Linked DNA regions of Homo sapiens. The protein of the gene in region 2 interacts with the protein of the main gene of each other region in a biochemical or structural test. Each region holds a gene or a part of one and is shown on either strand. Other genes may lie near its edges. The genes, in order: DGKZ, PSMD9, PBK, RPS14, SLCO1C1, DGKK and DOCK4.

Evidence for each region.
Region 1: the proteins of PSMD9 (region 2) and DGKZ interact in a test that uses a peptide from one of them, tested with the Homo sapiens proteins (one large-scale study listed by IntAct).
Region 3: the proteins of PSMD9 (region 2) and PBK interact in a test that uses a peptide from one of them, tested with the Homo sapiens proteins (one large-scale study listed by IntAct).
Region 4: the proteins of PSMD9 (region 2) and RPS14 form a complex in vitro, tested with the Homo sapiens proteins (one study listed by IntAct).
Region 5: the proteins of PSMD9 (region 2) and SLCO1C1 interact in a test that uses a peptide from one of them, tested with the Homo sapiens proteins (one large-scale study listed by IntAct).
Region 6: the proteins of PSMD9 (region 2) and DGKK interact in a test that uses a peptide from one of them, tested with the Homo sapiens proteins (one large-scale study listed by IntAct).
Region 7: the proteins of PSMD9 (region 2) and DOCK4 interact in a test that uses a peptide from one of them, tested with the Homo sapiens proteins (one large-scale study listed by IntAct).

What each region holds. Positions count from the first base shown.
Region 1 is NC_000011.10:46,353,728-46,357,949, reverse strand, and holds part of DGKZ (diacylglycerol kinase zeta), read right to left. Parts: intron 1-4,222. UniProt on the Homo sapiens protein: Diacylglycerol kinase that converts diacylglycerol/DAG into phosphatidic acid/phosphatidate/PA and regulates the respective levels of these two bioactive lipids.
Region 2 is NC_000012.12:121,894,826-121,899,047, reverse strand, and holds part of PSMD9 (26S proteasome non-ATPase regulatory subunit 9), read right to left. Parts: coding exon 4,207-4,222; intron 1-4,206. UniProt on the Homo sapiens protein: Acts as a chaperone during the assembly of the 26S proteasome, specifically of the base subcomplex of the PA700/19S regulatory complex (RC).
Region 3 is NC_000008.11:27,817,081-27,821,302, forward strand, and holds part of PBK (lymphokine-activated killer T-cell-originated protein kinase), read right to left. Parts: intron 3,615-4,222; coding exon 3,485-3,614; intron 2,581-3,484; exon of another isoform or gene 1-2,580. UniProt on the Homo sapiens protein: Phosphorylates MAP kinase p38. Seems to be active only in mitosis. May also play a role in the activation of lymphoid cells.
Region 4 is NC_000005.10:150,441,769-150,444,793, forward strand, and holds the end of RPS14 (small ribosomal subunit protein uS11), read right to left. Parts: intron 2,586-3,025; coding exon 2,518-2,585; 3' UTR 867-2,517; downstream 1-866. UniProt on the Homo sapiens protein: Component of the small ribosomal subunit. The ribosome is a large ribonucleoprotein complex responsible for the synthesis of proteins in the cell. Part of the small subunit (SSU) processome, first precursor of the small eukaryotic ribosomal subunit.
Region 5 is NC_000012.12:20,693,509-20,698,518, reverse strand, and holds the start of SLCO1C1 (solute carrier organic anion transporter family member 1C1), read right to left. Parts: upstream 3,188-5,010; 5' UTR 2,712-3,187; intron 1-2,711. UniProt on the Homo sapiens protein: Mediates the Na(+)-independent high affinity transport of organic anions such as the thyroid hormones L-thyroxine (T4), L-thyroxine sulfate (T4S), and 3,3',5'-triiodo-L-thyronine (reverse T3, rT3) at the plasma membrane.
Region 6 is NC_000023.11:50,364,741-50,367,921, forward strand, and holds the end of DGKK (diacylglycerol kinase kappa), read right to left. Parts: 3' UTR 669-3,181; downstream 1-668. UniProt on the Homo sapiens protein: Diacylglycerol kinase that converts diacylglycerol/DAG into phosphatidic acid/phosphatidate/PA and regulates the respective levels of these two bioactive lipids.
Region 7 is NC_000007.14:111,867,027-111,871,248, forward strand, and holds part of DOCK4 (dedicator of cytokinesis protein 4), read right to left. Parts: intron 2,630-4,222; coding exon 2,548-2,629; intron 1,129-2,547; coding exon 958-1,128; intron 1-957. UniProt on the Homo sapiens protein: Functions as a guanine nucleotide exchange factor (GEF) that promotes the exchange of GDP to GTP, converting inactive GDP-bound small GTPases into their active GTP-bound form. Involved in regulation of adherens junction between cells.

The DNA.
Region 1 (4,222 bases), on a different chromosome or scaffold from region 2:
AAGCCTTAGTTCTAACCAAGCCAGCCTATTCTCTGTGCCCCAATCTGGCTGTGCCTGACTTACTGCTGTGCCGCCGCACCTGGCACACCTTCTGCCCCGAATACTGGCCTCCCTCTCTACCTGATAAGCAGCTGCCTGCTCACAGCCAACGGAACACCCCTCCTACTCACAGCTCCGCACTGCCCATTTGGCTCCCCTGCCACTAGAGCCCTGGGAGGCCTGCTTCTTTCAGCCCACATGCCTGCTCCTCCACCAGACCGCGAGCTCCTGGGGGGCCGGGGCCAGGTCTAGCGCATCTGGGCATGCCCGGCATGGTGCCTGGCAGTGAGTCCAGCATTTACTGCTGATCAGTGCAGGAGGAAAGAACAGGGAATTCCACAGGGGAGGGGCCAGCACCTTAAGGGAGGAGAAAGGCTTCTTCCACCTTGTGTAACCACATGCAACGGCTGACCACAGGCTCCAGCTGGCTCAGGCCACTTCTCTTTGTTGGGTACAAGGGGATGGCAACAGCCTTGGTTTGGGTGGCCACCTTCCTCTCCTCTCTAGAGGACCCCAAGAGTGACACCTGGAGGCCCCTTTCTGGGCTGGATGCTATCGCCCGCTCCATGTTCTCCATGGCTTTCTCATGAAAACTAGATAGTCGGTTTGGTGACATGAAGTCACAAGGGGAGGGTGGTGGGCAAGGAAAGGGGAGGAGGGGCTGTCTCAGAGGCTTGGGGGCTAGGCGGGGATCCTAAGCTGGCCTGAGCTCCTTGGTGAAATACCCCCAGTCTCTTCTTTCACATCCGAGTCCCTGACTCAGCCCCTGCTAGGCCTCAAAGAGATGTTTGCGCAACAAATGACCAACCCATTCCTTTAGTGCCTCCCTCCAAGCCAGACTCCCGCTGCCATCAGAATTCATCCTAAAGCACCCAATCACCTTTTACTGACTCTACTGTCAGCTGAGCAAAATGCAAAGACCTGGGGCTGGCAGGCAACAGGCCTCCCAGCCTCCTCTCTGCTCTTTCATATTTTTAATGCTGTATTTGACACTTACATAACTCACTCCACCAGACACTACTCTAAGTGTTTTTACAAATATTAAGCTACGAATCCTCCTAAGAATAGTTGGTATTCTTATCCCCATGGCCCGTATCCTCATATTGCAGATGAGGAAACTGAGAGACAAAGCGGTTAAGTCATTTGCCTGAAGTCGTCCAGCTAACATGTGGCAGTGCTGGGGTTTGAACTCAGTAGTGTGTTCCATGGCACATACCCTCGACCCCTCAGGCTCCACCCTGGATGCTTCTGGCAAACAAAACACCGCGGGTCCCTTTTCCACGTGGCACCACGTGGCATCCGGTGGTCTCCCTACCTGGAATACCACTCCCCTCTCTACTCAGTGAATTCTCCCTCATGGTTTTCCTCTCAGACCCTGGGCAATCAGCACTAATGTGCAAATCTGCATCCCCGGACAGGCTGTGAGCCCCAGGGCCTCACATTGCTTCTAATGGCATCCCCAGAGTGTAGAAGTGCTGGGTGTGGTTTGAAGAGTGAGTGGAGGGAACAGCGCATGGTCTGGACTCAGCCTCATGGATCCCGCTGACAGCACAGGCTTCAGGTGGGCACAGAGCCCCAGGAGTGGGCCAGCTCCCGAGAACTTCCTGCTGCACTGGGTGGACAAGTCTGGTCTGGGCTGAGCTCTGGTGTCTCAGAGGCAACACTGAAACCGATCCCTGATGGGAATGCCAATATATCTCCCTTAGCCTCCCAAAGGGGCCCCTTTGTTATAAACCCCTCGCGGGCCCCCACTCTTCTCTGGTGACCGTCCCATCCTTGTCTTCTCCTGTGTCTGCAGAGGGCTCCCATTCCCCATCTGCTGGGAGAAGCATTTCCCCCTCACCCCTCATTCAATATTAACACCCTGGCCGGGCGGGTGGCTCATGCCTGTAATCCCAGCACTTTGGGAGGCTGAGGCGGGCAGATCACCTGAGGTCAGGAGCTCGAGACCAGCTTGACCAACATGGAGAAACTCCATCTCTACTAAAAATACAAAATTAGCCGGGTGTGGTGGCCCATGCCTGTAATCCCAGCTACTTGGGAGGCTGAGGCAGGTGAATCGCTTGAACCTCAGAGGCAGGGGTTGCGGTGAGCCGAGACCGCGCCATTGCGCTCCAACCTGGGCAACAAGAGCAAAACTCCATCTCAAAAAAAGAAAAAAAAAAAATTTAACACCTCCCCCCTCAACTTTCTGACCATGTTGCTCCCTCCCCCATCAGCCCCCAGGGCCCCACCCCACTCTCCAGGCTTCCACACTACTCACACAGGGGACAAAGGCCTTCACAGTAGGTTTAGCTTCAAAGGCCCAGAGGATCTGCCTCTGACCAGCTACATGACCTCAAGCTAAGCCTTTTAACCTGCCTCAGCCTCAGTTTCCTGATCTGATAAATAGGGCTAATGCCCACCCTCGTCTCTCTCAAGGGAGTGTTGCAGGCTTGAAGGAGAAAGTGTTTGTTCCTGGGAAACAATTCCCCAGTTTACTGAAAGTTTTAAGAAAGAAAATAGCCGGGCGCGGTGGCTCATGCCTGTAATCCCAGCACTTTGGGAGGCTGAGGCGGGCGGATCACGAGGTCGGGAGATCGAGACCATCCTGGCTAACATGGCGAAACCCCGTCTCTACTAAAAATACAAAAAATTAGCCGGGCGTGGTGGCGGGCGCCTGTAGTCCCAGCTACTTGGGAGGCTGAGGCAGGAGAATGGCCTGAACCCGGGAGGCAGAGCTGGCAGTGAGCCGAGATCGCACCACTGCACTCTAGCCTGGGCGAGAGTGAGACTCTGTCTCAAAAAAATAAAATAAAATAAAAAAATAAACACAGAGGCCTAAAAATTAGGACAACTACTTCGGAGCACAATTTGGCAACATCTGTCTAAGCTGAAAATACACAGACCCTGTGAGCAAGCACTGGTGGAGAGAACACAGAGGGATCGCTTGCAATAGCGAAAAACTGCACACCACCCAAGTGTCCGTCAACAGAGCCTGGGCAAATAAGCTGCTGTTACACAATGGAATCGGACGTGGAGGTTAAAATGGATCCGTGAGAATTCATGTTTAGGATGGTTAAATCTCCAAAACAATATTGAGGGAAAAACCTAAATGCAGAATATGCCTGGTATACCATTTAAACCAGAGTAAAATCATACGAAACAGCACTGTATGTTGCTAGGCATGAATACCTATGTAGGACAATTTTAAAAACAGGCACAAGAACATCACACACACCAAAATCAGAATTGTGGTTTCCTCCAGGGAGTAAGACACAGGGGCCTCCATCTCTATCTAAAGCAAATATGGCCTAATGCTAAGCTCCAACCAAGCTAGGCAGTAGGTGTCACCTTATTCTGCACACTTTTCTAACGCCAAGATATTTAATGTGTTTAGAAAGATTTCAAAATCATTTCTTAAAAAGACTCCAGAGGCTGGGCACAGTGGCTCAGGCCTGTAATCTCAGCAACTCAGGAGGCCAAGGTGGGAGGATCACTTAAGGCCAGGAGTTCGAGACCAACCTGGGCAACATAGCAGGACCTCGTCTCTACAAAAGAAAGAAAGAAAGAAAAAATGAGCCCGGTATGGGGGCCCCCACCTATAGTCCTAGCTACTCGGGAGGCTGAGGTGGAAGGATTGCTTGAGCCTAGGGGTTTGAAATTACAGTGAGCTATGATTGTGCCACTGCACTCCAGCCTGGGTGACAGAGGGAGATCCTGTGTCCTACAAAAGACCCCTTGAGGGAGACCAGCCCCCTAGAGCTCCCTGGGTCTACCAGGGATGGTTTTGGCAGCCTGTCCCTCACCCTTTCAGGGCCCTCAGGATGGAAGGAAGGTCTCCCCCAAGGGGATGCCTTCCAGAGGTGGGTGGGTGGTGGCAGGCTGTGTCAGTGGGGTGTCCGTGTGGGTTGGGGAGCAAGAACCAGCTTGCCCCCTTTCACAACCGCCCCCGCCTCTCTCTGTAAAATGTCAGCAAGCTGGGGAAGGGGGCGGAGAGACAGGCAAGCTGTTAACCCGCGAGATGCTGGGGTGTGGGCGGTGCGGGCCCAGGCTCCCAGACAGCTATTTTGGCATGTGCTGAGATGGGCTCATCCCTGGCAGGGGAGAGGCCTCTACGTGGGAGCTCTGAACTGATGCTCTGCCAGGAGCAAGGGGAGGAGGTCTCAGTGTAGATGAGGAGGATGCTGGGGCCCTCCCTCTC
Region 2 (4,222 bases):
CCGTCTCTACTAAAAAATACAAAAATTAGGCCGAGCGTGGTGGCTCAGGCCTGTAATCCCAGAACTTTGGGAAGTCAAGGTGGCCGGATCACGAGGTCAGGAGATGGAGACCATCCTGGCTAACACGGTGAAACCCCGTCTCTACTAAAAATACAAAAATTAGCCGGGCATGATGGCAGGCGCCTGTAGTCCCAGCTACTCGGGAGGCTGAGGCAGGAGATTGGCGTGAACCAGGGAGGCGGAGATTGCAGTGAGCCGAGATCGCGCCACTGCACTCTAGCCTGGGCAACAGAGCAAGACTCCGTCTCAAAAACAAAACAAAACAAAACAAAAACAAAAATTAGCTGGGCGTGGTGGCGGGTGCCTGTAATCCCAGCTACTTGGGAGGCTGAAGCAGGAGAATTACTTGAACCCAGGAGGTGGAGGTTGCAGTGAGCCGAGATCGCACCACTGCCCTCCAGCCTGGCGACAAAGCAAGAATTCGTCTCAAAAAAAAAAAAAAAAAGTGCTGCATAAGCCTAGTAATCCTGGAGACATTCAGTCCAGGAGAGGGAGTCCACAGGGAGGTGGCCAAAGGGCACCCCTGCTACAGGGCTCTTGCCAATTGGCTGGGTTTGGGAGGAAGACCCAATGCTACAAAATCTTTGATTTTTCCAGAAAAGCTGAAAATTGGGATCTTTGAAGTGAAATTCTCTGATTTTTCAGTACAGATAGCTAATTCAAAATGTTGTGAACCACCATGGCAATCTGCAGGCCACGCCAGCACAGCAGCTGGTATTTTGATACCTTGTGCCTGTCAGTGGGATTGCGGTACTACCTGACCTGCCTCCTCTGCCACTGTCACTTTGGAGCAAAGGCAAGACCCTCAGTCATGAAGGGATTCAAGTTCTCAACCCACAGGAGCAGATGTGGGAAAAGAACCCAGATCTGAACAAGTGGAGACATGCACTTGGGAGGCAGACTTACATAATACATGGTCACTTTCACTAGAAAAGCCCTCCCCCAGTGAGGTCCACAGCATCCCTAGACTCTGCAATGCCTGGCACAGGGAAGTGCTCAATACACAGCTGTTGGGGAATGGAACGAACGACTATTTACAACATATTACAATTCTAATCAAAATGTTGAAAGGGTTTTTTTCAGTACAAAATGTTTCTGCAGTGTATTTCAAAAAACAAATTTGCAATTATAACAAACGTACCATATTAACATAAGCTGTTAGCTGGGCGCGGTGGCTCATGCCTGTAATCCCAGCACTTTGCGAGGCCGAGGCGGGCAGATCACCTGAGGTCAGGAGTTCGAGACCAGCCTGGCCAACATGGTGAAATCCCGTCTCTACTAAAAAAATACTACTAAAAAATTAGGCCAGGCATGGTGGCTCACGCCTGTCGAGGCCGAGGCGGGCGGATCACCTGAGGTCAGGAGTTGGAGACCAGCCTGGCCAACATGGTGAAATCCCGTCTCTACTAAAAAAATACTACTAAAAAATTAGGCCAGGCATGGTGGCTCACGCCTGTCGAGGCCGAGGCGGGCGGATCACCTGAGGTCAGGAGTTCAAGACCAGCCTGGCCAACATGGTGAAACCCTGTCTCTACTAAAATATAAAAATTAGCCGGGCACGATGGCGGATGCCTGTAATCTCAGCTACTTGGGAGGCTGAGATGGGAGAATCACTTGAACCCGGGAGATGGTGAGTGCAGTGAGTGAGCCGAGATCATGCCACTGCACTCCAGCCTAGGTGGCTAAGCAAGATTCCATCTCAAAAAAAAAAAAAAAATTAGTCCGGTGTGATGGTGGGCACCTGTAATCCCAGCTACTTGGGAAGCTAAGGCTGGAGAATCACTTGAACCTGTGTGTATACACATGTGTATATATTTGGGAGGCCTCAGCCTCCCAAAGTGCTGGGATTACAGGCATGAGCCTCTGTGCCCAGCTTATGCAGCATTTTTCCTTCTAGAGGATTTCAGAGAAAAGTGAAATCTTGGTTACACCCAGCCTGAGTCATTCACTCATATGTGTATTTTGCATATATACACGCATGTGTATATTTTACATACACATGTATGTGTGTATATATTTACATGTATGTGTAGATATATACACATGTATGTGTATATATGCTGTTAACAACACGGGAGATTACATACAGAAGCCAAAGGACCTATGCATTATTTTCCAATTTTTTTTTCTTTTCTTTTTTTTTTTTTTTTTGAGACAGAGTTTCACTCTTGTTGCCCAGGCTGGAGTGCAATGGCACAATCTCGGCTCACGGCAACCTCCGCCTCCTGGGTTCAAGTGATTCTCCTGCCTCAACCTCCTGAGTAGCTGGGATTACAGGTTCGTGCCACCATGCCCAGCTAATTTTGTATTTTTAGTAGAGACAGGGTTTCTCCATGTTGGTCAGGCTGGTCTCGAACTCCCGACCTCAGGTGATCTGCCCACCTCGGCCTCCCAGTGTGCTGGGATTACAGGCGTGAGCCACCGCACCCAGCCATTATTTTCCAATTTTTATGTAAATCTATAACTGTTCTTTAAAAAGGGCTGTTTTGAGAATAGATTTTCTTTCTTTTTTTTGAGACAGAGTTTTGTTTGCTCTGTCGCCCAGGGTGGAGTGCAGTGGTGTAATCTCGGCTCTTTGCAACCTCTGCCTCCTGGGTTCAAGTGATTCTCCTGTCTCAGCCTCCCAAGTAGCTGGAATTACAGGCATGTGCCACCACATCCAGTTAATTTTTCTATTTTTAGTACAGACAGGATTTTGCCATGTTGGTCAGGCTAGACTCAAACTCCTGACCTCAGGTGATCTGCCCGCCTTGGCTTCCCAAAGTGCTGGGATTACAGGCATGAGCCACCGCACCCGGCCGAGAACAGATTTTTCAAAAAAAGACCAATAAGGAATTGCTCAAACAGATTTTTTTTTTTTTTTTGAGACGGTCTCTTGCTCTGTCACTCGGGAGGTGGAAGTTGCAGTGAGCCAAGATCGTGCCACTGCACTCCAACCTGGGTGACAGAGCGAGACTCCGTCTCAAAAAATAAATAAATAAATAAGATGTGATGCAGATGGAATCAAGATTCAAACAGATTAAAGAGGAGTTAGTAAGTGAAAAATGTGGAGGATAAATGCTAATAGGACTCTGTGGTGGAGACGGTTGCCTACCTATGGCTGAGTGGATAATGGCCCCCAACACATCCACATCCTAGCCCCTAGAAGCTGGGAATATGCCACCTTACATGGCAAAAGAGGCTCTGCAGATGTGATTAAGGACCTTAAGATTCGGACATGATCCTGGATTATCCAGGTGGGCCTGGTGTCATCACAGAGGTCTTTATAGGTGAAAGAGGGAGGCAGGAGAGTGAGAGAAAGAGATGTTATGACAGAATCAGAGGGAGGGAAATGCGACTGCTGGCTGTGTAGATGGACGAAGCCATGAGCCAAGGACGGTGGGCAGCCTTTGGAAACCAGAAAAGACCAGGAACAGGTTCTCCCCTAGATCCTCCAGAAGGAGCCAGCCCTGCCAACACCTTGATTTTAGTCCAGTGAGACCCATCTGGACTTCTTATCTCCAGCTACTAAGTCTGTGGTCATTTGTTATGGCAGAAACAGAAACAAATATACTATCCAATCTGTACTCTCTGCTAGCTCTTTAATTAAAAACAAATCACGTCATTTGTTATGGCAGAAACAGAAAACAAATATACTATCCAATCTGTACTCTCTGCTAGCTCTTTAATTAAAAACAATCAGCACCTTGGAAGGCCAAGGCAGGAGGACCACTTGAGTCCAGGAGTTCAAGACTCACCTGGGCCACTTAGTGAGACTCGTCTCTACTAAAAAAAATTAGCCAGGCACAGCGACACATGCCTATAGTCCCAGCTACTTGGGAGGCTGAGGCAGAAGGAGCACTTGGAGCCTGGGGGGTTGAGACTGCAGTGAGTCATGTTAGCACCACTGCACTCCAGCCTGGAAGACAGAGCAAGACCCTGACTCAAAAAAAAAAGAGAGAGAGAGAGAGAGAGAAAATGAAACCAGAAATATAGAACCTTAGAGTCTAGCCCATTCCCTTGGTTCTCAGTCCTTGGATGGGGACAAGACAATCCCATCAAGGCAGAAGAGAAGGCAGTAGATAATACAGATAGTTGGTTTTATTTGTATGCCTTTAACACCTTCCCACCACAAGGTGGGGAAAGTCTTCTAAGAGGGCCACTCACATATGATGTTGTGCCT
Region 3 (4,222 bases), on a different chromosome or scaffold from region 2:
CTGGTGTAGTAGCTTTAAGAATTGCTATTGCTAACTACAAAAGCTGTGAGTGAGTCCAGGTAAAGGAGCTGCCAACACATTTCCCACACGCTTAAAAATATATATATATTTTTAGTGAGAAAGCCAGATCAAATTTTTCATCTTGATGAAAAGTATCTATTGAAAATACTCTCATATGTAACCTTCAGCATAAACCCAGGGTTTATGGCTACAAAGGAACATTTTATCATCATAGAAAGTTTCACTGAACAGCACTGCTCTAGAAAGTCTTGCTCCGGCTCAGAAATGACACAAGTCATTTCTTCTGGTAGAACCTTTCAGACGACAGTTTGGAAATCTGCATTTAAAATAAGAAAAATATTTTAAAATGTTTATGCCCTTGCAGATTTAATGTGTTAGTATCTTTTATTAGGATTATTAACTGTTTTTGTTACTGCTTTAGTTTTCAAAGTTGCATAGGTTTTAACCCTGTTTTTTTTTTCTATAAACCTAGTTATATCTTGAAACTTTTGCGCAATGAAGTTTTGCAGGAAATAATATATCAGGTTATTATAAAAAAAATGCCTGTACTGCCTAATTACTCAATTACTTCTTTGGACTGTGTTCTTAAGAATGAAACTATAGGGTCAAAGGGCATAAACATTTTTAAAGGTTTTTCTTATTTTAAATACAGCTTTCCAAACTGTCACCTGAAAGGTTCTACCACAAGAAATGACTTGTGTCATTTCTGAGCTTGAGCATTTAACTATCACTGCAAGACTTTCTAGAGCAGTATTGTTCAATGAAACTTTCTATGATGATTAAATCTCCTAAATCTGCATTGTCCAATGTGGTAACCATTAACCACATGTAGCTTCTGAGCACTTGAATTGTGGCTAGGGTGGCTGAGAAAATAATTTCAATGTTTTAATATTAATGTAAATAGCAACATGCAGCTCATAACTACTGTATTGGACAGTACCACTCCAATGCTTTTTCACCCTCCCCATAATGGTGGCCATGTTCCATATAGTGGCTGTTCCATCAGTATAAGTCCTAAAGGGAGAATGACACAGAACAAGGTGCTAATGGCCATGCAGCTTGAGTAATAAGCCTTGGTTGTTGTAAGTCACTGAAGTTTTTGAGGTCTGTGTTACCACAGCAAAACCTATTCTAACCTCAGTAAAACAGCAGTTACAAGTTCTACTTAGTGTATGAGAGGACATGTTAACCTACATTGTTGCTCATACTAGCAATCTTTTTATTTACTAGCAATCTTGTTACTCCTTCAATAATATATTTACAAGTCAGGCACTATTCTAGAGTTGAGGATATTTCAGTGGACAAGATATACAAGGTTCCCTTCTTAGAGCTTACAAGCCTAATGGAGGAATGGAGAAACGTTTAACAGATAATTTACACAGTGTGATGAGTGTTGATAGCAGATTATCTCATTGTTATTTAGCTTTTAAAACATTAGTAAGAACATTACATATATATTTTCCTAATTGCCATTTTTTTCATTTCTCAACAGTCTCTTCATAATAGAGCTTTTATCTGTTTCTCATTGATTACTAATAACTCTTAATGCATTAGAAATATTAAATATCTTATACATTTATCTCAGTTTCTAATGTCTTAAGCTCCCTGCCCCTCTCCAACCCACTGTGATATAGAATTCTTTTTTTTTAAATGGAGGTACCCATGGCTTTTTAATGATGGTTTCTAGCTTTGGTGTCTTCTTTAAAGTCCTCTCCACAGCCAACATTAAAGAACTATTTATCTACAATTTTTTCTACTGTTACTTTTTCCCCCAATCTTCAATATATGGGGATTCAAGTGTAAGGATAGAAAACAGCTGTGTTTTTTTCTAAAATGTCCAGATAACATCATTTACTGACTAAACTACCTCTTTTCTCACTAATACAAAAATGTCACCTTTATCACACAACAAATTCCTCTATTTGGGAACTATTTCCTGACTCTCATGTTCTATTTTTCTGCCTATTTTGGCATGAGTATCATCGCTTTAATTACTGTAGCTTTATAAAACTTTTTATCTGCTCAGGAAGATTCCTCCTCCTTTCATCGAGTTTTCCCAGCCATGTTTGATTGAACATGTATCCTCAAAGAGGAACTTCAGATTAATTCTGACATGTTCTAGAATAGATCACATTAAGATTATGTAGAATTTATAGGCTATCAAATTCATTCATTTCTGCTTTCTGTTCTTAGGGCGTCATTTTTTTCAATTTCAGTTGAATATTCAACTTAACTTCATAAAAGTTAAATAATGAAAATGTTTCCTTTGAGTAGTTTTGAACATATCAAATAGGGTTTGACTTGTTATATTCTTATATTTTCTAAATATTTTATAAATGGAATTTGATTTCTCTTTTTAGCCAAAAATTATTCGGAAGTGTTTTAAATTCCTAAAAAGTTTGGAGTTTTTGTTTCCTATTTTATTACAAATTTCTAGATTTACAGCATTGATGTTAAGGAATATCACCTATTAGACTATTCATACTTTTTATAATTCGAAGTTTTTTTGTGTGATCTAAGAATATGGTCAATTTTAATAAATATTATGGTGCAGAGGTACTTGCCTTACTATTTACTCAGATCTTTAACATCCTTACATTTGTCTGTTTGCTCTATTAAGCATTGAGAAAAATACTTTAAAAACCCTCATTTTTATTATGTTTGACAATTTATCCTTTTACTTTCTAAAGTTCCCATTTTGTAAGTTATTTAGCATAAGGTTTCACAACAGTTCTATTTTTATTAATGATTACAGACATCATTTATTTATAAAGTCTGTCCATTCATTCTGACTCTTGCCTTCAACTCAACTTGTAAACTTTTACTTCAGCTAGAAATTCAGGCATTTATATGTTCTAAACAGCATTTATTAACCATTTGTTTAACTTCTGTTGATATAAAGAGACAAATTTAAGTATTATTTACTAAATAATATGTTGCAAGCAGAGGCTTTCTCTTGAGGCTGGCTCTTGTTTCTCACCAAGAACATATCTTAAATTCCCTGAGAAGCTATGCAATAGAGAAGAAAGGGCAAAGAGCCAAAGACCAGCCTTCATTAGCACCCCTCTTTTCTGCTTCATTCCAGTTTCTTCTACCAGTTTCCTAAATCTTGTCACTTTACTCATGCTAAATAAACCGCTTTACACAACCTTACTAAATTTTACTTTCTATTCCCAGATGCTTTACTGCTTAAAGATCCCAATCCAGTTAGAAATATTTCCCAAAGATAACTCCAGTTAAAATATATACTAATACTACTACTAATAATAATACAGTAATTTATACTGTACATGTGGCAAGGGAGAAGACTGCAGGCTGACTGGGAGAGAGAGAAAAAAAGGGGACTTTTTACCATATACTTTTTAAAAATAGTTTTTGATTTTTGATCCATGTGGACTTACGTATTTAAAAATGTAAACACTGTATTAAAAACAAAATTTTAAAACTTAAGAGTACAACTTACCAGTCATATTTTCATCCAGTGGTAGAGAGACTCCTACATCACAGATTTTAATTGTTTCAAAATCGCCTTTAATTACAACATTTGAAGACTTTATGTCTCCATGAAGCAGTTTCTTTTCTTGGTGCAGATACTAAAATAGTAAAAAATTTAACACATATGTGCAGAAACACAAACTAATAAAAAAATGTGATAACCTCCAAATATAACAACTTGAACTCCCTTCCTAAACTCTAGGTTTACATTTGTCCAGCGTTTCAAAATTTTTTTTTTTTTTTTTAAAACGGAGTCTCACTCTGTTGCCCAGGCTGGCATGCAGTGGCACGATCTCGGCTCACTGCAACCTCCGCCTCCTGGGTTCAAGTGATTTTCCTGCCTCAGCCTCCCAAGTAGCTGGGACTACAGGCGGGCACCACCACACCTGGCTAATTTTTGTATTTTTAGTAAAGACGAGGTTTCACCATGTTGACCAGGCTGGTCTGTCTCGAACTCCTGGCTTCAAGTGATCCGCCTGCCTCAGTCTCCCAAAGTGCTGGGATTACAGGTATGAGCCACTGTGCCCAGCATTTCAAAGTATTTGAAACAAGAGAAGGGAACATCCCATGTTATCTCAGTCTGCCATACTGACCAGAAGTCTAAAAGTTTATTTAGAAATAGATACTTCTGCTAACCTTTTATACTTATAAAATAAATAATTATAAGTTAACTATTTTTTTCCAAGACAGAGTCTTGCTCTTGTTG
Region 4 (3,025 bases), on a different chromosome or scaffold from region 2:
TTTTAGATGGCATGTTGCAATGTGGTCTAGAGATAGGCAGAGGCCAGAGGGAAGACTGGGAAACGCTAGGAAGGAAACCTTGGCATGGGAAGGCGGCCAGAAGGGGAGCAGGGGAGAGGGGCAGCGACTGTCTCTAGAGGTCTGGTTGGGGCTGCAGTCGCAGCTTCAGGCGCCTCTGCTGCAGGCTGCAGTCTCAGGTGGGCAGCAGCCCAGCCGCCTCTGCGGTCAATAGGCTGCTACGTTCCCACCTGAGCCACACCACAACTTGGCTCTCCTTTCAGGCAAAACCCCCGAAAGGAACTGCTTTCAAAGACCCGGCTGATTGCATCCCTGGTTACCAGGAAAGAGCAGGACAAGTTACAGTCTCACCACAGGAAATAAAAAGAATGCTCCGGCGACTGGCAGCATTTTTCTACCACGATTCCAGCCAGCTGTCCTTTATGCTGCTTGGCACAAGACCTGCACCAGTGTAAGAATAGCAGCAGCTTCTTCAGTGCCAGGCACTGCGCTAAACACTTTGATCTTGTGTGATTCCATTTGAGGCAGCCATCATCACAGGAGTTTCCACTAAACGGCTGAGAGGTTAAGTACTTTGCCTAAGGTTGAACGGTCTGAAGCTGTGGAATAGGATTTTCCTCCAGGTGTGTCTGCCTCCTGAGGGTCTGTGCACCACATCCTGCCTTAGACTGCCAGACTGACAGTATAAAAGCACCCCTCATTTTTTTTCCCTAATAATTTGACTTTGGAATAATTTTAAGTTTACCAAAAAGTTGCAAAGATACAGTTTCTGTGTGCCACTCACCCGGTTTCACCTGTTACCATCTTACATCGCCATGATACATTTGCCAAAAGTAGGAAACCACTGGTACATTACTACTAGCTTTATTCCAGACTTTAACTCCAGACTTTATTCATATTTTTTAATTTATTATTTACTTATTTAGTTTTTGAGATAGGATCTTGCTCTGTGACCCAGGCTGAATGTAGTGATGCAATCACAGCTCACTGCGGCCTCCACTTCCCAGGCTCAGGCAATTCTCCCACCTCAGCCTCCCAAGTAGCTGGCAGTACAGACGTGTGCCACCATGCCCAGCTAATTTTTTATTTTTTGTAGAGACGGGGTCTCCCTGTGTTGCCCAGGCTGGTCTCAAACTCCTGGGCTCAATCCGTCCTCCTGTCTCGGCTTCCCAAAGTGTTGGGATTATAGGCGTGAACCACTGTGCCCTGCCTTTATCCTATTTCACTAGTTTTTATACTAATACCCTATTCTGGTTCCAGAATCCAATCCAGGATACCACAATGGGCATTTAGTTTTCACGCCTCCTTAATCTCCTGTCCTTGACTTTCATGACTTTTAACAATTTAAGGAGTACTGTTATATTTTTTTTGCAAGCTTTTTTTTTTTATTATACTTTAAGTTTTAGGGTACATGTGCACAACGTGCAGGTTTGTTACATATGTATACATGTGCCATGTTGGTGTGCTGCACCCATTAACTCGTCATTTAGCATTAGGTATATCTCCTAATGCTATCCCTCCCGCCTCCCCAGGAGTACTGTTATTTCATCAGGTTAAGATTCAATGTTGTTATTAAAATCCCTAGCAAGGTTTGGCATGTAACCAACGCCGCCTCATCACAGTAACCCCTTGTCTCAGGACCCATTTATTTGCTTATTCCCTCTGCCTGGAACACGCCATCAAAGGCTAAAAGCAGCATCCCAACAGATTTTCCCCTCTTGCTGGTTTCTTTCCTCTACAACTGACTACCTCAATGGTCTCACCTCTCCAGCCTGTGACACACAGCATCCTCTCCACTGGGTCTCACTAACCCTACCCAGCCACCAGCCTGTCCTAACCATGGCAGGCACCATCACGGGGCCTTGTGGTAATCCCTTGCAAAACGCTGAGTACCATCTGGTGTCACTGGGTACTCAGAGCCGCATGCAAGCTTCCGGAAAGCAAGAACTTTTCTTTTTTATCGCTGATGAAAATAGGACTTGGTGTGTATTTGTGGGGTGACAATCTTTATGTACTTTATGTACTGATGTGGAACAATCTCCAAGATCTGCCAAGTGAAAAAAAGCAAGACGCAGTGGAGTGAGCTCCCAGCTTTGCACAGAAGGTGTGGGGGGAGAATGCACACCCACGTGTGTTTATATATGGCATGGGTCTGGAAGGCTCCTCTTTCGCTTCAGGCTACACTTGGATCAACAGTTCCCACTCTGGCTCTTTAAGAATTGGTCCATATTTAGAACCAGCATCTCCACTCAAAACGAGGTCTCCAACGCCTTGGTCTGCTTTAGATGACCAAGGCAACTTAATGCCGCAAGTAGCATGGAAAAGACCCCAAATGCAGCACCAGGATCTCAGCTCTCCTCAGGCTCCTTTCTCCCAAGAAGCCAAATAGGAGGAAGAAATCAAATGCCTGAGTAGCCCCTGATGAAGGAGAGAAGGCTGGAGTTGAAACAGTTTACATGAAGGCAATTTATTAACAGAAAATATTTTGAGGAATCTTGTTCACAGACGGCGACCACGGCGACCCCCCTTCCTGCGAGTGCTGTCAGAGGGGATGGGGGTGACATCCTCTGTGGGGAGGAAGAGAAAGCGTCATTGCCTGGAGCTGGATGGGAAGGGCCCCCAGGACTCCCTAGACCAATGGCCTAACCAATCAGCAACAGATCCTGCTGCTCCCCAAATGACTCCCCAGTACCTAACAGATGGATGTGAACATGAAGTGGCCCCATCTGCCAGTTCCTCGAATTTCCTGACGTGGTCTTAACTCACTTTCCAGAAAGGGAAACAGGCTGAGCTGTGCGCAAGATGTCAGAGGCACAGGACAAATCCAGGTTCTGACATCTAGCCCACCGTCTTCTCTAGAGGAAAAAACCCTTTTAGACAGGGTAACTGCAACTGTCTCGTTTTCATTAAGTAAAAAGACACTGAAAAAAAGTCTGAAAAAATCTTTTAAGGCTGGGCGCGGTGGCTCATGCCTGTAATCCTAGCACTTTGGGCTTTGGGAGACTGA
Region 5 (5,010 bases), about 100 Mb from region 2:
ATTCATACTTTCTCAAACTGAAAAATCAAGTAATAGTATAAACGATTTGCTTTGTATTAATAATATGAAGTTAAAACATCAGAGGACTTCAACAATTTAAAAATTAAGTGGATTCCTCTAGGGAGTGGGAATTGACTAAAGGAAAGGATGAGACAAGGGTCTGGTTTCAAAAAAATTATTATTAGGCTTTTGGATTCATTTTATAAGCATTCATAACTTTAATTTTTTAATTGAAAAAGAAGAGTGAGTGAAAGAGAAAAATTTAAAAACAAAAAATAAGCAAAACAAAGAGCTAATAATGTTAATCAAGACAAAAAACAAAGATATAAATACATAATATTAATGAGATAAAACACAGATATTTAGGAGTATAAAACATAAAAAGATGCATCGAATGTTGAAGTAAGTTTAATATCTTGACTTAATGGATAAGTTTCTAGCAAATATTCATTACCTATATTGATAAAAACCAGAAGAGAAAATAGCCAAGAAAGACATTATCAAAAATACTCTGAAACTATTCCCTAAACAAAGATACTAAGGATAGATGATGCACCAGAAGTGCTTTATCAAGGGATATTCTTTGAGGAAAGATAGCCGATAATGGAAACAGATAATCATTGTCTCCATTAGTTTGACAAAAATAACATTATCTTGGTAACAAAACAGCACAAAGATAGCACAGAAAGGAAAACTTCAGATCAAGCCCATAGATTATAAAAATTCTAAGTAAATGCTAGCAAATCCAAATTAACTCTTGCTCTATGATTAGAATTATTCTAAAAGATGCAACAATTGGTTAATTACAGGAAATTTATTCACCTAAATTACCACATGAATAATTCAAAATAAAAAATAGAATTTCATTACATGAAAAACATCAGTTGATAAAATTCGACATCTATTACTGATTTAAAAAACAAAGTTTAAGAAATGAAGAATATAGAGATTCTTCCTTAACAGTATCTGATACCAACAGCCAACTTCCTATATCTACTGAGTCACTAGGACTACTTTTCTAGAACAGTATTTTGCCAGGACAAGGAAAACAGGGTTTGGGAAATGCAGAGTTATACAATGTTAAATAGGTATCTTTACTACAAAACTATGAGTAAAAATATTGCCAAGCAAGAGATATACAAACCAGAAAGGTTTTAAAATAAGAAACGGATAATTATTAAATTTCTGGCTTAAATTGCAATATTCTTCAAAGGATTAAATTATATAATTCAAATTGGCCTTCTGTTTTTGGGGATTCAGATATCATATTATTTCTCATCAGTCATAATATTAAAGTCAGTGACCAGAAAATACAAATAAATTGTTTAATAATAAAATCTGCTATCATTTATCCTAAATTTATCTTTAAAAGATCCAAAGTGTTACATCTAGAATGCTAATGTCAAAGAGAAAAAATAATTATGTTAAAAACACTACTGAAAAACTTGAGATACTATAGCACATTTTAAGTTATCTAATATATGGAGGTGTTGACACAAAAATCACTGTAACTAAAATTCAAAAGTATAATGAAATATAAATATAGTCATCTCAGTTCACTTTGTGTTAGGGCAAAATAGGATCCAGCTTAAACTATTGGCACTGCATAGCTTTACTGAAGTGTCTTGATGGTTAATGCGCAAATTATTGCAAGTGTAGTATGTTCCAAGGAGGCTACAGTTCATCCCCTGTAAAAAGAGAGGGAAGGAAGCTCAATGACATGAACGGAAAGATCCTTGGGGCCTGCAGGCTCTCTCTCTTCATTTGCAACTGCAGAAGTAGAGCAAGAGTACACAGTTATTCAGAATTATTTGCATTTGGCAAATCCTTAATTGATCTCTGGCCACTTGAATAGATTCTTCCAGGAAAAGACATACGACAGTTTTCATCCAATACCCTGGGTTTGGAGCATAACTTATTCTGGAGGCCAAAGAAAAACAAGCCAAGCAGTTTCTCTTCCTTTGGTTCAAAAACATTGAATAATCAGTCCTCATTAGTTTCAAAATCAGCCCTCCAGATTTTAAATGGAGAGAGCAAGTGGCTTAGGAAGGTTGTAGTTAGATCCCGCAGATGTACTCAACCCCTCTGCTCTGCAACTGACTCGGACTCTGTCCAGCAATCAGTCCCCAAGGACTGCCACAGAGAAAGTCCTAAAGGCAACCACGCTCCTCCCTCTCTTCTCTTGGCCATCTCCTGTGAGGAAAACCTCTGTCCTGGCTTGACTTCTGGACACCAGGATGCCTCCCTTCAGACAAACTAAAAAATAGCCTCACGGCACTTGCTGCAGAGGAGTGTGTGTTGTTTAGAAACTAATTTCTCACCTAATACAAATTATCTGTGTCAGATTCAGATTTAATAAGTACTATTTTTGTGTTGAGTAATGTACGTACTTTTTCTAATCCTTAAAACAACCCAACAAACGTAATATTAGAATTCCATTTTTTAAATTAGATGGCCCAAAGCAATTAAGTGACTTGTCAAAAGCTAAACAATTTATAAGCATGAGACTCAAAATTTGAACTCAAATTTGAGTTTATCTGATTTCTTTAACCAATCTTCTCTCTTATTTCCATCAAACTAATGAGGGGATCATCACCTTTCACTGATATTTTTATGGATAAAACATAAATCGCACAGAAATTAAGGGTTAATCTCCCATAAGAATCTGATGTATTAGTCACAAAATATAAAATGAGAGAACCAAGTCTTACCTGGAGGAAGAGATCAAAGATAGCCAGTTCCTTTCAATGTGCTCAGCAAGAGGATGGACCACACACCACAGACTGAAAGAGGAAACTGAGGTAAACTCCACAGCAATTTTGAACAATTTTGCCAGGTGGGGAGAGTGTGGGTGGACACAAGCAGAGGAGATTAGGGAAAAGAAAAGATGAAGGGCATGGTCTCACCCCTGAGCGATCTCTTCTCTTTCCTCTTTCTTCCTGGCCTCTTTTTTCTGGCAGTCAGCAGAGAATTGGCCACGCTGGCAAGGCCACTGACGTGCATCTCAGCTCCCAGGGCACAGAAAGAGCTGAAGCTTTTGAGCCATTTCTTTGCAATTTGCTGCAAGTTTAAGGCCACACGTGATAAAGCTTTCTTTATGGGAGAGAGTGAATAAAAGAAAAGACCACTTGTGATCTTACTTGCTGATTCCCAGAAAACACAACTCCGCAGGGGGCAGAGGGTAAGGAACAGAAGCCAGAGGAGGGCGGAAGTTTATAACAGAGACCCCTCCTCCTTCCAGAAAGTTTTTAAGCCAACTATTCCTTAGGGACATCACTGGGATCCTTGTGTTTTCTTTGTTTGTGTGTTTTGGTTTTGGTTTGTTTTGTTTTGTCTTTAACGGTTCTTGGGCTAATTTGCTACATGGTTTTCTTTTCCATTGGTGTTCTAGAATCTTTAAGGACCAAGTATCAGGTCACAATCAAAGCTCTGCAGCGCTCTGTACAAAAAGAGTTAATTCTCAGAGACATGATCAGTTGCTCATATTTACAATTTCTATGAGTTTTGAAAACAGAAAAGAAACACGTTGAATTTTTGGCATTCAATTGTTTATTCTGCCTAATTCCAAGGATAAATAAATCCTTGCACTGAGAAAGTCCACAATTCTAATACATTCTTTTTCCAAGAGAAAAACTTTAGAGGATCTTAAGCAGTAGTAGTTTGCATTTATTTTCTACCAATAAATAAATTTGCTACCAGAATTATCCAAGATTCACCCTACTCTTAAGTGGCTGAGACTCTGGGATGGTCACTTAATTTTACTGAGTCTCAACTTCTTCCTTTGTAAAGCAGAATTTTTTTGTTTAAAAAAAAAAAAAACAGATTTATAGGGCTGTTTTAAGGATTAAATTATATAATGTATTCAAAAGCACATTGCAAATGAGCGGAAGGTATCATCATTTTATATATATATATATTTAGTTCACATAATGGTCAGAATAGTTAATATTATTCAAGCACATTTTACTACAAAAGAAAGAAAAGAAAATGCAAGAAAAATGGGTTTATATTAAACCTTGCAATGAAGCAATGGTGTTTTCACACTCTGAAAGGCCAAATATTTTACTTTAACAATCAAACCAGACTTTTCCATCGGAAATAGTGAGCAAACATCCGAATACATTGAGTGTTAGTCTAGACTTCTCAGTGTCTAACAGGTGGCCAGACCACTGTTTTATTCAAGAGGAGACAGTATTTACCAGCCCAAAGGGCATAATTTTCCTCACCAAGAAATGAAATTCTCCCTTGAGAATGTAATTTTGTCTATTCCCAACTGGCTCAGTCTCACTCTCCAACACGATTCCTTTTCTTATTTCCAGAGTCCACAGTTAATGTTACTGTTTTGAATGCACATAATGTTTACACTTATTCAGAGCTTCTTATGTGCAACCTTGCATTGGATTGTAGCCTACTTCAGCCTTTCATTCCCATTTCCAAACTCTAGATGAGGGAGTTAACAAACTTCTATAAAGGGACAAATAAGAAATATTTTAGGTTTTGTAGGACCATGCAATCTCTATCACAACCACTCACCTCTGCCATTCTGGTGGTAAATTAACCACAGACAACATATAAATGAATGCATTTCCTAAGACTGCACTAACAAAGTACTACAAGCTGAGTGACCTAAAACAGAACTTTATTGTCTCACACTTTTGGAGGCCAGAAGTCAAAAATCAAGGTGTCAGCAGAGCCATGCTCCCTCTGAGACCTGTAGGGAAGAATCCTCCTTACCTCTTCCACCTCCTGGTGTTTGCTGACAGCCTGAACTCCTTGTTTTATAGGTGTATCACTCCAACAGCTGCTTCTGTTACCACATGGCCATCTTCTCCCTTTATGTCTCTGTCCTCTGTACTTAAAAAAACGCTAGTCATCTTTGGCTGGGGACCACCCTCATGACCTCATCTTAACTTGATAAGGTCTGCTAAGACTCTCTTTTCAGGAAAGGTGACATTCACAGGTACCGGGGGTTAGGACTTCCTCATATCTTTTTGGGAGACACAATTCAAG
Region 6 (3,181 bases), on a different chromosome or scaffold from region 2:
ACTTTTCAGTTTGGAAAATCAAGGATTTAGAAGACTCAAGTTCTCACTCTGGTGTAGCATGTTGTGGAATCCTGGCCTAGTATAGCCTCAGTTCCCTACCTATTAAACACGACTAAGAACTGGCTCCCCTGGGGTCACTATTAGTGTGACAGAAATTAAACTGTATTGAATGCTCAGCCGAACTGATTTTGCATTTGAACAGAATATGGCTTCCCACCTCAAACCCCTCTGGAGAGGAGAGGAGTGTATGATGTATGCATTGGGGGGAATAGATTGTATTGTCAGATTTCAAGGTGCCTTATGCATTTATTTAACAGTCTGGACTACACTCTATCCCACTTTGCCTCCCCAGTAACTAATGCATTCCACTGAGATTTGTATCCTGCAGAGAATTAGCTCCTGGAGCAATTACAGTGGCATGTATTTCCCCACAGGATCATCCAGAGTCGCAGCTAGGTTTTAGAGTTCTTCTTGGCAACCCCTTTAGTATCATGATCATCCCTGATGGAGATTCTTGGTTTGCGCTGTTGCTGTCCTCCCTCACCTGCCATCGTGACCTGCATGTGGCTTGTTTAGAGCTTGGATGGCCACCCAAGCCCACCTGCCCCCCATTTCCACCACCATTCAACTCCCTTTATGCTGAGGTAAATGATGAGGCACGGCATTGATTATGTTTATCCATTTATTAAAATATTTAAAGAAGCAATACTTTATTAACATTGAGGACTGGTGTTCCATTTGGCGGGGGGAGAGGAATAGGCACACTTTGTGGATCTTTTTTTTCTGCTTTTTCCTGTTACCATGTAAATACCCCAGCTTCCTCCCCCAACCAGCCCCTGGCCCTGCTGCTTATTTGCAGGGGCCTCTGAGGAAATAAAAAACACAGAGCAGAAAACAACAATGGGTTACAGATTCACTGACAAATAGACAAATGCAATTCCACAAATCATATAGCCAAGCAAGGTCTCATATAGGATGGAATGGTGCTAATGGGTTTGGTTGCTTTGGTATTATTTTCCACCTCTCGTGAAAGAAAAATTCTTCCATTTGTGTCCTGAGGGAAGATGACGTTGACCCTGACTGTTTCTTCTGGCCCAGTTTTATTAAGGTAAAAAATCTCTTTCTTATTCTTAACCTGCTCTTATGGACACAGCACAGGGCCTTTCTGGAGAAGGGGACCCATAACTGTTTACCTCCTATAGTATTGACACCAGAAGCAGTTGGTGGCAGTTCAAATGTATCGGCTTTTTCTTCTCCACTATTCTTCTGGCCAGGAATTGCCTACCCAACCAATTCGTCAGAAAGTGCTACCAAAGATACAACCAAACCCTAGAGCTTTGGGTCTTAATGATGTCTGAACATAATTGAGATGGATATTTGGTGTTTGGTCCCACCACCCAAGCAATTGTATTAATTACTGCAAGTGGTTAACAAAGTCCTTAAAGGAGCTCACACTCCCAGAGCTAAGACAACTCCCTTGAGGCATCACTTCTTGCTTTGTTTCCAAGTGAGCATATGCAAGAACAGGTGCTTGGCAAGCTATCTTCCTTTTTGGGAAACTACTGGTAACTTAGCAATTTAGGAGGTAACTGAGGGATTGAGCAAGCCACACCTGCTCCTGGGCCTTGTCATCTATCAACTGTGCTCCATGAGCTGACTCTAGCCCCAAATACTAGTGGTTTCAGTCAATATCATTCTGACTCAGAGTGGGAGGACAGGGTAGGTGAAAGGGAATCCACATGGCACAACAGAGCAACAGCAGCATCACTGTGCACAAAGACCTAATTATTGCAGCAAAGTAAGCACAAGAGATGGAGTCTTATTACAGTTTACTATCATCAGTGATAAAAATAATTATAAGACACAGCCCTGCTTAGTCACTGCCAAGATAAAGCTATCTTCTCCCAGGACTTCCTTCTGTAGTCCTAAATTTGCTCATTTGGACATTTTCCCCTTCGGAAAAAGCTCTTCTGAAGAAAATGCAACTTGGTTCCCACTCTGTGAGTGTGTGTGCAGGTGTCAATGCATGCAGCCATAGAGGAGCCAAGTCAGGCTGCAATAGTGAGCTTGCTGATTTCATCTAATACCTCCTCCTGGGAAGAAAGACTAATAACAGAGAAAGTCAAAGACACAACAACAGCACACTCACTACTCAAATATGTACAACAAGCTAACACATTCTGATGCTTAAATAAGTTTTAAATGTTTTCTGTCATCTTTTTCCATTGACTTTCTTCTCTAGTTGTAGAGCTAGGACTTAGTTTGGCACAGCAATCAGACATTTGGGGACTATCCCCTTGTTAATATTTTTCTCCTCACCCCTGCGGAGGTGGAGCACAGGTGGCTGGTTTAAGTGGGTTAGGCTGGTGGAGTTCCAGAGTTGAGAACCAGTGCTTGGAATCTGAATTGTGCACCTCAATGAACCAGCCATTGGACTGAATCAGGTAATTGAGCACGCTAAGTTTGTCTGAGAAGTAGGGAGAGGCCAGTTTTCTCTTGATAAGTGGGAAGGGACAGTTAACTAAAGGTATGAGTCAAGGGTGGGGTGAAGATGCAAGGCTGACCAGAGAGAACCTCTCTGGGCATTGGGGTTTGATTAGATTTGCCCTGACTGGGAGAAGGCATTTTTGAAAAATGTGAATTAGTATTTGGAGCGATTTAGGAATAGTTTGTTTTCATGAGAAATTTGCAAGAAGAACCACAGGAAAGCACAGGCTTCTAGCCTTCATTTCTCCAGGCCCATGTTTTTTCTGATCACTTCAATGCCCCTCTGTACTCAAGGGAAAAGGGCAAGATGGGAGATTTGAAGGTGACTTGAGGACTGACCCAACAGCCTGTCCAGAAGATCAGGCCAAGATGGAGCTTGTGGGGAAGGGCCTAGGCTGTGACTTAATTGTCAGGCAGTCCCTAGTTCAGGCATCTAAGTCACAGAGCTCAAGGCCTGGTTGCTCCATATAGTCTTTTTATTGGGGAAGGGCACAGTTGCTGATGAAGAGTCTAGGACAGATAGAGCAAAAAAAGGCAGCATGCCAGCTTAAACCCCTTCTTTAGGGCATTGGTGTTTTTGTTCCCCTTTCCATGGCCTGGCTCAGAATTTTAAGGGGGCGTCAGAATCAGCTGGGCCATAGATCCCAGCCACCTCTAAGACGCTGAAAATGCACCAAAAGATTTAGAAGCTCCA
Region 7 (4,222 bases), on a different chromosome or scaffold from region 2:
ACATTTAAAAGAGCCTGAGTTATATCCTTGCCCAGATGGAAGATGAGTCCACCTCTATAAAGAAGAGAGGAACAAGAATAGACCTCTCAACAGTCAGAAAAAATACAGCACATTATCAGAGGGCTGGTGCATTCCCGGTGTTTTGCTTTCTGAACATCACATAGTACCAAATCATAACAATACTGTTAAGGATCTAATTTTGTCTCCTAATCTCCCTTTTTATGTCCCAGTTCTCAATGATTACAAGTTTCTCTAACCTCTAGGGCATGGTAAGAGGCTGCTTCTCCTTCTGACAGGTTTTTAACCAAGTCATTAGAATTAAAAGTATACAAGAAGAATCAAGAAAGTATAGGGAAAATATTCAGAATTACCTCATGGAACATATTCAAGGCCATGCTATTTGGGAAGTAGATGGATCCTGTTCTTAAAAAAAACATGTGGGGCTACTTCCGGTAATGGAGTTTGGCGGCAGCAGCAGCTCTGCACTGGTCTTAAAAGATCAGTCCCAGGATGATTAGGGTCAAGTTCAATAAAACAAAACAACATGCAGCTTAGCTGAGTCCAATATAATGATTCTCAAGTTGACAGATTAAAATGCAGTGAGAAGCTTGGGGAAAAGAACTGCAAGAGATTGGCCCTAGTGAAATTCCTTCCCCAGGGCTGGTGGTGACAGCATGTCCAGTCGTCAGTATGTGTTCTGGTAACCGGAAATGAAGCTGATGCAAACCAATAGCCTCTCCATGCAGAGAGAGAAGGGAAAGGCAACCCACTTCTGCTCAGCTGGTACACAGAAGGTAGGGGAATTTTAAAAGTCTACTCATAAAGTTGGTTAAGCTACAAATATAAACTGGAGCAATTGACTTCTGATGGAGAAAACATTTGATTACGCTGCTGTGTAAAAATAAATAAACTGCACTTATCGTTTTCTTCTATTCAGCATAGATGAAAAGAAATTACCTGTGACTGAGATAATGCTCCAGACCCTTTGCTCTCTTGCGAAAGAAAGAAACGGACTGACATGAGAAGCTCCTGAATGCAGCAGCGGAACTCCTCTTCGTTTTGCCCACCAGTGGCAAGGGAAAACAGCCTTCGAGATTGAACTATATACTTAAAAATGTATTCTTGTGCCTTAAAAATACAATTTTTAAAAGTTAGCTTCAAAGGAGACAAAGAGTATTTATTTAGCAATGACACGGCATAAAAACCATGGTATGGCATTAAACTTTTACATTATTCATGTAGACACCAAGGCCTTGTGAGGCTTTTTTGAACAGTATTTACTTTAAGGGGGAACAGCCACTTTTCTCTGATGCCTAATGAGAGAAAAAAAATTTAAAAACACTTTAAATTTAAAAGAAATTTAAAAGAAATAGAATTTTAATAGAAAATTTAAAAACACTTTAGCCGGGCACGGTGGCTCACGCCTGTAATCCCAGCACTTTGGGAGGCCGAGGCGGGTGGATCACCTGAAGTCAGGAGCTCGAGACCAGCCTGACCAACATGGAGAAACCACATCTCTACCAAAAATACAAAACTGGCCAGGCATGGTGGCCCATGCCTGTAATCCCAGCTACTTGGGAGGCTGAGGCAGGAGAATTGCTTGAACCTGGCAGGCGGAGGTTGCAGTGAGCAGAGAATGCACCATTGCCCTCCAGCCTGGCCAACAAGAGCAAAATTCCGTCTAAAAAAAAAATTAAAAAAAAAAAAATTTTATCATTCTGGAGTATGATGAACACTAAGTGTTTTTGACCCTCAGATGTTTTTTAAATTTAGTCAACAAAAAGATAACTGTTTTTTAAAAAATAATTTTGTTTTGACAGGTAGTACTCTTGCCACTTAGCATTTTACCTTCAATCAGCCCAAATTACAAATGAATAATTCACAAAATGCTATTTTATAAAATGTATACATTGTCTACTTAAAGCTACTGACACCAAATAGGATGGTCCTCAACAACAGGAATCAGAAGACTACCAGGGCTGTTACTGGACAATTCCTTTAAGAATTTGTACTCTTTTTCAACATGTTTGCAAGTAAGGGATTAGTATCTCCACAGACAACTGAGCATATGGTGCCCAGCGATGTGGGCAGCGTTAAGCCACAAGACCCGGTAAAGCCTCAGGTTTCCTCATTATAATCCCCGCTAAGCCACCCTATTTGCTCTTAAAATTTAACATAAATGGTTCTCCGATGGTCTCTGTCAGGTTGGTGGAAGCAAGAGCCAGGAACTTCTAAGCTTAACTGCCCCATATAGACTTCTCTCATAAACCCTCCCTCTCTCCTGCTCATCTTAGACTTCACTTCAAGTACTCTCCAGCCCAGAGGAACAAGGATTCAATCCTGAACAGTTTCCAGTAGACTACCCTGGCAAAGTCCCCTTCAAATTTCATCAGCTCTCAAGCAGTCACAAACTGATTAAGATCCTTGAATTGGAATGTCAGTAATACATCATCACCCATTACTGTCTGTGTAGAGGAACCAATTAGTTTAAGCATCAGCATGCAACAGCTTTGTTAGACTCTGCTGTTATCAACAGCATGTTATCACCTTCAGCACCTCCTGGATATGCTCTTGCCGCTCTGCTTCTGTGATCCGGTCCACGTACCATTTGAGCACTTTGATGAGATCTCTAAAATACAGGGGAAAATGTGCAGAATGTAAAATTGGTCTAATTCTCAATTAAATGCCAACAAATCCAACTCTTAACTATATCATGAGGAGGTTTCTTTTCCCATCAGTTCTCACATTTTCCTGTCAATCTGCTGTATAATAATTTTACTAAATCTGCAGATCAACACTGCCACCCTTTTCAAAGCTTAAGGGAGAAACAACACTCAATCTGGACATATTCCATAGCCCTGCTGTTTCTGGTAATGCCTCCAAATGGGTGAACACAAATATTGGAGAAAAGGACTGTGCCCAACCAAGTGCCTGGCAGTGTGAGTGCCATGGTCAATACTGTAAAACTGCTCATTGGGATTTCTTTCCCAGTGACCACGTAAACAGCTGGATGCAATATCATTAGGCTGCAGGCAAAACGGGGTGGGAAGGAGGGATGGAGACAATGCCTCCCCACTGCTATGCACACCTTATGGATTTATCAAGCCAATTTTCTGACCCATGAGAAGAACCTGGCTTATGTCAATATGTGCCTTAGGAGAATTTCTAGAAAGGCCAAGGTAATTTTTTTTCCTGTTTTGAAAAAATGTAAAAACAACAGCCCACAACTCTCAAGATGACAGTCTTACACCTTGAACTTTGGTCAGTTCTTGGTTTCTCTTTTTTCTTTTTCTTTTCTTTTTTTTTTTTTTTTTTGAGACAGAGTCTTGCTTTGTCACCCAGGCTGGTGTGCAGTGGCTTGGCTCACCGCAACCTCTGCCGCCCTCCTGGGTTCAAGCAGATTCTTCTGCCTCAGCCTCCCAAGCAGCTGGGATTCAAGTATGCACCACCACGCCCAGCTAATTTTTGTATTTTTAGTAGAGGCCCGGTTTCACCATGTTGGTCAGGCTGGTCTTGAACTCCTGACCTCAAATGATCTGTCCACCTTGGCCTCCCAAAGTGCTGGGATTACAGGCATGAGCCACTGTGCCCAGCCAGTTCTTGGTTTCTAGGAAACAGTTTACCCAGCAATGTTTCTCTGGGTCAGGGGAGAATACTTGGATGTGCCAGTAGGTAGATGTTGGTGGAGTGCTATTTTTTAAGATAACATGCTAGTGAGTTTCTGATCACCCCCAGCCTAAGAGGATTCCACAAGCCTTATTTGTCTTTTTAAGATCCTGCTTTCCTGGCCAACCGGAAGTGTGAGAAATTATACTCTTGTTTTCTAGCTTCCAAAGACAATTTAACTTGGAAGCAGTAACCTCCTCACACTAGGGCCCAAATTGTTAGGCTGAGTGGGCCGATGTTTCAAAACTATTCCTGCGGTTGCATTTCACTCTCAGCAAAAAATCACACTGATGAAGTGTCAAGTCTAACAAAAATACCTTCATTCATTTCGATGTTGGAGACGTCGATCTTAACCTGTCATGGCTGGGAATATCCAAGTAAACAGGATCAAATGCTTATCTGATAACCTATTAACCTTTATATATTACATAGATGGGGGAAGGATATCAACCTGATTTCATGCTTTTTAAACTCACCTCAGGGAACAGTCAGGCATGTGCATGCCCACAGGTGCTTAAGGTATAAGGTAGAAATATGGGAGAACAGCAAGGACCAT